Homo sapiens: one gene and its partner. The protein of the gene in region 2 purifies or fractionates together with the protein of the main gene of each other region. This does not show direct contact. Each region holds a gene or a part of one and is shown on either strand. Other genes may lie near its edges. The genes, in order: CIAO2A and ALDH18A1.

The links.
Region 1: the proteins of ALDH18A1 (region 2) and CIAO2A purify together in Homo sapiens (co-immunoprecipitation; one large-scale study listed by IntAct). This does not show direct contact.

What each region holds. Positions count from the first base shown.
Region 1 is NC_000015.10:64,076,552-64,080,372, forward strand, and holds part of CIAO2A (cytosolic iron-sulfur assembly component 2A), read right to left. Parts: intron 1-3,821. UniProt on the Homo sapiens protein: Component of the cytosolic iron-sulfur protein assembly (CIA) complex, a multiprotein complex that mediates the incorporation of iron-sulfur cluster into extramitochondrial Fe/S proteins.
Region 2 is NC_000010.11:95,611,445-95,615,265, forward strand, and holds part of ALDH18A1 (delta-1-pyrroline-5-carboxylate synthase), read right to left. Parts: intron 2,718-3,821; coding exon 2,522-2,717; intron 2,420-2,521; coding exon 2,298-2,419; intron 1-2,297. UniProt on the Homo sapiens protein: Bifunctional enzyme that converts glutamate to glutamate 5-semialdehyde, an intermediate in the biosynthesis of proline, ornithine and arginine.

The DNA of each region.
Region 1 (3,821 bases), on a different chromosome or scaffold from region 2:
CTGTGGTAAAGAGAGTATGCTGTAATAAAGACGTCTACTTTCCAGAGAACACTGGAACATATGAACTAATTTTTATTTACTTATTTACTACGGAGATAAACATTTCTCATGAGTGAGAAAAATCATAACTTATTATAGTTAAAAGGGACCTTAAAGGTCATCTAGTCCAATCTTTTTTTTTTTTTTTTTTTTGAGACAGGTCTTACTCTGTCGCCTAGGCTGGAGTGCAGTGGCGCGATCATGTCTCACTACAGCCTCGACTTCCTGGGCTCAGGTGATCCTCCCACCTCAGCTCCCACACTCCCACCCCTCTCCTCCCTCGTCTCTATTTTTTTGTAGAGACCGCGTATCGCCATATTGCCCAAGCTGGTCTTGAATTCCTGAGGTTAAGTGATCCGCCCATCTAGGCCTCCCAAAGTACAGAGATTATAGGCGTGAGCCACTGCACCTGGCCCCAATTTTTTTTAAAAAACAAAACAAGCCGGGCGTGGTGGCTCATGCCTGTAATCCCAGCAATTTGGGAGGCCGAGGCAGGCGGATCACGAGGTCAGGAGATCGAGACCATCCTGGCTAACACAGTAAAACCCCAACTCTACTAAAAATACAAAAAATTAGCCGGGCGTGTATTACCAGCTACTCAGGAGGCTGAGGCAGGAGAATCCCTTGAACCCGGGAGGTGGAGGTTACAGTGAGCTGAGACTGCGCCACTGCACTCCAGCCTGGGTGACAGAGCGAGACTCCGTCTCAACAAAACAAAACAAAACAAAACAAAACACCTTTCTCCTAGTAGCAAAACACTCTTATTCTAGACCTCAAAGCAACAGGTATAGAATCACTCTATACTGACTTACTTCAGTTTAAAATTACACAGGACTCATTATTCTAAAAGTGATAAAGGGGAAAAGGCAGCATTTATGCAGCTATTCCTATATGAACTATACTTCAGGGTAACCAATTGATGAGGGGAGCTGTTACCAATAATGGGACAAACTGAATTTATAGGCCTCTGATGTGATGCAATGAGAACACATTTATTCAGTATTCTTGCCAAAAATGCACAAACTGAATCTAACCAGGAAACATCAGAAAACTCAATTTGAGGGACAATCTATAAAATATCTGGTTTACATTCTTCAAAAATATCAAGATCATGAAATAAAGGCTAAGGAACTACTCTAAATTAAATGAGACTAAAGAGACATGGCAACTAATGCAATGTATGATGGGGGAGAGGAGCAGAGCCAGGAGGAGGGACCGCCATGAAGGATGTTACCCATTGGAATACGTGCTGTAGATGAGATGACAGTACTGTATCAATGTCCTGGTTTAGAAATTTATACTGTGGTAATGTAAGAGAATGTCCTTGTTTTCAGGAAATACATCCTATAGTATTTAGAGTAAGGGGGCATTACAAATGCACTCAAACATTTCCAGAAAATATGTGTATGTGTGTGTACATATATAGAGAGAAATTAATGATAAACCAAATGTGGCAAAATGTTAACAATTAGTGAATCTGAATCTGGGTGAAGGATATATGGAATTTCTTTGTACTATTCTTCACTATTTTATTTCTTTTCTTTCATTATTTTCATTTCAAATAAAAAGTTAAACATTGTAATTAAAACAGTTAAAAATGAAAAATAAAATTTACAGGGCATCATAAACCACTAGTATAATAATTTATTAATTTACTCAATTTAAGACGTATTTATTGAGCTCCAAATATGTATAAGATCATAGCAGGAACACAGAGATGTATCATATATGAATCTTGACTTCAAGAAGCTGACAGCTAGCTGGTCAGGCATGGTGGCTCATGCCTGTGATCCCAGCACTTTGGGAGGCTAAGGCGGGTGTATCACCTGAAGTCAGGAGTTCAAGACCAAACTGGCCAACATGGCAAAACCCTGTCTCTACTAAAAATACAAAAATTTAGCTGGGTGTGGTGGTATGCGCCTGTAATCCCAGCTATTTGGGAGGCTGAGGCAGGATAATCGCTTGAACCCAGGAGTCAGAGGCTGCACTGGGCCGAGATCGCACCACTGCCCTCCAGCCTGGGCGACAGAGCGAGATTCCATCGCAAACAAAAAAAAAAAAAAAAGAAAAGAGAGAGAAGTTGACAGTCCAGGAGGGAAGATGAAAAACAAACAGAACACAAGTTAGAAAAGGACACTCTCTACATCAGAAGACAAAGAAAGAGCCACGGGGCTGGGTGCAGTGGCTCACGCCTGTAATCCGAAACACTTTGGGAAACCAAGGCGGGAGGACTGCTTGAGCCCAGGAGTTCACGAACAGCTTGGGCAACATAGTGAGACTCTGTCACTACAAAAAATAAAATTAGCTGGGCATGGTGGCATATACCTGTGGTTCCAGCTACTTGGGAGGGTAAGGAGGGAGGCTCACTTGAGCCTGGGAGATCAAAGGTTCAGTGAGCTGTAATCATACCACTATATTCCAGCTTGGGCAACAGGGTGAGACCCTGTCTTTAAAAAAAACAAAAAGAAAGAGCCACGGCAATTCAAAAAAAGAAATAGCTTTAGTTACAGAAATCAGGACTAGTAGTATGGAAAGGTGAATACAAAAAATAAAAAAAAAAATTTAAAAGATAAATAAAAATTCATCTTAAAAAGAAGAAAGAAATCAGGACTGATATCATGGAAAATAAAATAGTATTTCACTGGGCCTTAAAACGTGGGTAGGATTTGGCCAGGCCCAGTGGTTCATGCCTATAATCCCAACACTTTGAGAGGCCAAGGCAAGATGATCACTTGAGCCCAGGAGTTTGAGACTAGCTTGGGCAACAAAGAGAGACCTCATCTCTACCAAAAATTAAGAAAAAATTAGCCAGGCATGGCAGTGCACGCCTGTAGTCCTAGCTACTTGGGAGGCTGAGCCTCGGAGATAGAGGCTGCAGTAAGCAGTGATCACACCACTGCACTCCAGCCTGGGAGACAGAGCAAGACCCTGTCTCAACAGCAAACAAAAAAGATGTGTAGGATTTGAACATATGAGATGGGAGGAAGGGAACTCCAAGTAGACAGGGTACTCTGTGTAAAGGCTAGGTAGCAGCCAGGTAGAGAAGGCATAATTGCCCAGCAATTACAAGAGGCAGTAAGAGACAAGGCCGAATCATTCACGAGCGATAACCAATTACTATGAATTAACTGTGATATCCATATTCTTGCTCAATAGTAGGGTTAAAAACATCTTCCTCAGATTATCACACCAAAAGCACAAGTTAAAAAATTAAAAACAAATTAGACTTTATGAAAATTTAAAACTTTTGTACTGTAAAGGACACCATCAAGAAAGTGAAAAGACAACACACAGAATGGGAGAACATATTTGCCAATCATATCTGACAAGGGACTTGTATTTAGACTATATAAAGAACTCTTATAATTCAATAATAAAAAGACATCCTTATTTTAAAATGGGCAAAGGATCTGAATAGACAGCTCTCCAAAGATACACAAATGGCCAAAAACCACATGAAAAGGTTCTCAACATTATTAGCCATCAGAGAAATAAAAATCACAACCACCATGACAGCAGGGTGCAGTGGCTCATGCCTATAATCCCAGCACTTTGGGAGGCCGAGGCAGTGGATCACTTGAGGCCAAGAGTTCAAGACCAGCCTGGCCAACATGGTGAAACCCTGTCTCTACTAAAAATAAAAAAAAATTAGCCGGGAATGGTGGTACATGCCTATAATCCAAACTGCCTGGGAGGCTGAAGCACGAGAATCGCTTGAACCCTGGAGGCGGAGGTTGCAGTGAGCCGAGATTGCACCACTGCACTCCAGCCTGGCGACAGGG
Region 2 (3,821 bases):
GGAACAGAGGAAGTCCAGGGGCAACAACATAAAAACAACTGAAATAAGCAAGTTCTAGGATAGAACAGAAAGGTGAGCCTGTAAAACCACAGCCCAAAGTGGCTCCTGTAGCCTCAACAACTGAACTAGTCCTACTTTCCTCCCTCCAGCATGATCTGACTGGCCACTTGCCAGCAATGGGCCCTCAAGACAGTTGGAACAGGGATTGAAGCAGGAAGCCTTGAACGTTAAGGATGTGCAAGGTGGGCCGGGCATGGTGGCTCACGCCTGTAATCCCAGTACTTTGGGAGGCTGAGACGGGTGGATAACTTGAGGTCAGGAGTTCAAAAACCAACCTGGCCAACATGGTGAAACCCCGTCTTTACTAAAAAAATTAGCAGGGCATGGTGGCAGGTGCCTGTAATCTCAGCTACTTGGGAGGTTCAAGCAGGAGGAGAACTGCTTGAACCTGGAAGGCAGAGGTTGCAGTGAGCCAAGATTGTGCCACTGCACTCCAGCCTGGGGCACAGAGCAAGACTCCGTCTCAAAGAAAAAAAAAAGAATAAAAAAGAATGTGCAAGGCGTTTAGTGGGTTATCAACACAAGGGCTTGACTTCTGGCATTTTCCTAAAATGAATACTTGACAATAAAGATCCCAGTTCCTGCATATGGTACCTAGGCACTAGACTCGTGTGGAAAAAGGGAGGTGCCACATATACATTGCTACTCCCTGTACCCTAGCGAAGTCCCAGGTTTGCTTTAGAGGTAAGCAGTACTTGGTCAGGTGCTTTCAGCACCTGAAACTGTGGCTACTCATTTGATTTCCAACTGCGTCAGTCTGGCCCCACCTCTAGGTTCAGCTCAGCCCCAGGCTCTGGCTCTAATCCTGCTGCTGGTTAGAGGAATTTAAGGATTCTGAGGCTGGTCACCGAGGATCCCAATCACAAGCTGGATCCCACTTAAACCTTGTTTTCTGAGACATCCCCAGGACAGGGTTCATGCCTTGATTCTTTGGGATCAAGCTTTTGCCTTGGCTCAAGTTATAAGTGGTGTCTGCCTTATCCTCATGATTCCCGAGGCCCTGCCATTGTTTCTTATCTGGGATCTCACTTCTTCTGTGTTCCTTGGGGACTGGAACCCCATCCCTGTGCAAGTCATCCTTCTAGCTTTACTTTCTGCCATCCAAAAGTGCTGTATGAAGTACACACAGTGACTCATTTTGATTTGGAATTTCAAGGCCATCCTCATTTTAATGACTGAGGATACCACTTGTGTGTTCAAATTAGGTCTGGGGAGGGATTTAGTCCTGGCTAAAGGAGAGCTTTCCTCCTGTCTAATCCAGTTCACTGTGGTGCTTGGCAAACACAGGTGCCCAATCAACAGGCTTCCTTACCAAAGTAAAGTAAGGTCCCCGAACATGAATGACCATGTGATCTAACTTCCTTGTAATCCATGGAGTACAGTTTCATTTTTAAAACAATTCTTTCCAGTTCTCACTGGGACCATGCCACATTTATAAGCTAACTGGAGCCTTCCTTTCCAGTCAAAGGATGGAAGGGAAGAGACATATGTTCAGAGTCAAAGCAACCAAGGCCAACAAGCACCTTCTCTACTGCCATGCTGGTTTATATAACTCTGAAAGTGTACTATGACATCAGAAATTAAAGCTTAAAATGCATCCATGCAGAGAGTTTAACAGATTGTCCATTTTTGCCTTGAGGGCATCTATTATATTTTCTTGCAGGCATGAATTTAGGACACAGCACAACTTTATATTTGAAACTTACTGGCTTTTGGTTTGTTTACAACCTTAACAATATAGTAAAAACATAATCCAGGGAGACATTCTACAAATTACTGAATCCCAAATATCACTGCATTAAGTACACTAATATTGGTAACCAAAGACACTGGGGGGAGGCAGTGAATGTACATAAGTTTTTGGTTTGAAACGTTTCTGCACCATCTTTTCAAATCAAATCCAAAAAATAATATATGCTTGGGAACACCTTGCATATATAAGGTTGCCAGAAACAGTTCAGTCAGCATAGTGCCATGTGGTCTGTCTTACCTTTGAACCCTCTTTAGCACACAACACATTCCACTTTGTAATAAAGCTATTTGTGTATTGGTTTGGTTCGACTACTAGAGGGCAGGGGTTGTGTTTTACTCACACTTTACTTAGCATGGAACTTTGTACACAGAAGATATTAAAAAATATTGTTTCTTAAACTGCCTTATATGGTATGGCTGTGCCTGGTCTAATTCCACAGGCTTCTAAGACAGGAAGTAATGTACTAGTCCTATGGAACTCTTACCTGTTCCACTCTCAGCATATCAATGATCTGGTCAAATAATGGTGTCCTGAGCAGATCCCGGTGGATTAACAAAGTCTCCAAAGCATTACAGGCAGCTGGATATTCACATTTAGAGTCTCTGACTGAAAGAAGATGAGCAAAGAATTGTTTCCATTGACATGATCCAGAGCTGCAGAGGATGTAATATTTCTCCGTTGTGAAAGAGAAGACCCCATCCAGCTCACCTAGCCTGGTGACCTTATCAACACTGGCCTCGGAATCCACATACATGTGACAGATCCCTTCGCTGTGCCCCATCACTGGAATCCCCTTAGCAGCTTTCTGGATGTCTCTGACCAGCTGGGAAGAGCCACGTGGAATGATCAGATCTATCATTTTGTCTAGGCGGCAAAGATCTTCAACTTCTTCTCTGGTATTCACCTTTAGAAGGAAAGAAGAAAAAGATAAAGATGACATCTGACCACACAAAATATAAAAACAGCAGCTTCCCTTTTACAGATAAACATCTGTACACTCTGAGAACTAAGTGAGACACTGTGAAAACTTATTCTAAAAACAAAATTAAGTTCCCGATCATGGGAATCAAAAAGTTGTCCAGCAAATGCTTATCAAACACTATATACTCGGTGCTGTGCTCCACATCACATATCACGCAGGACACTGCATGCCGTCAAAGAGCTCAGCATCAAGTAGGGAAGGCAGCACTAGGGTACTGCTAGCCATAATACAGGGCAGACAATTTTTAAAATGCCAGAAGCAGCACAAAGGGGTATCTATGGAGGTTAAATGCAGTACACTACTCCAGGCCATGAAGATCACAAAAGGGAGTGGCTTCTCTGTTGGTTTTCTATTCACAGCATTGAGGAAATGTTGGGTTGGTCTTGCTAGGGAGTCATGGTTCTCATGACTTCTGATGGCAACTTCTACCCTGGGATGTGGATTAGAATGACTTAAAGAGCCTGTGAGAGGATACTGAGATTATGGGCATTTTGTTTTCTCTTGATTTTTAATTTTTCTCCACATGGTCATATTACTTTTATAACAAATATATATGTGTGCCAGAATGTTCACAGCAACTTTATTCCACATAGCCCAAAACTGGAAACAATCTAAATATTCATCAAGAGAAGAAAAGATGAACTGTAGTATATGCAGGTAAATGGAACACTACCCAGCAATTAAATGAGAAAACTACTGCTAGATGCAACAATGGGAATGAATGCCACAGACATAACGAACAAATGACAGGCAACATAAACGTGTGTTTTGTTTGATCTCATTTATATAAATTTCAAGAATAGGCAAAAGGCAGGGCGTGGTGGCACATTCCCAGCACTTTGGGAGGCTGAGGCAGGCAGATTGCCTGAGCTCAGGAGTTTGAGAGCAGCCTGGGCAACATGGTGAAACCCTGTCTCTACAAAAAACAAAAAATCCACAAAAGTTAGTCAGGTCTGGAGGCACACACCTGTAGTCCCAACTACTAGGAAAGCTGAGGTGGGTGGACTGCTTGAGCCTAGGAGGCTG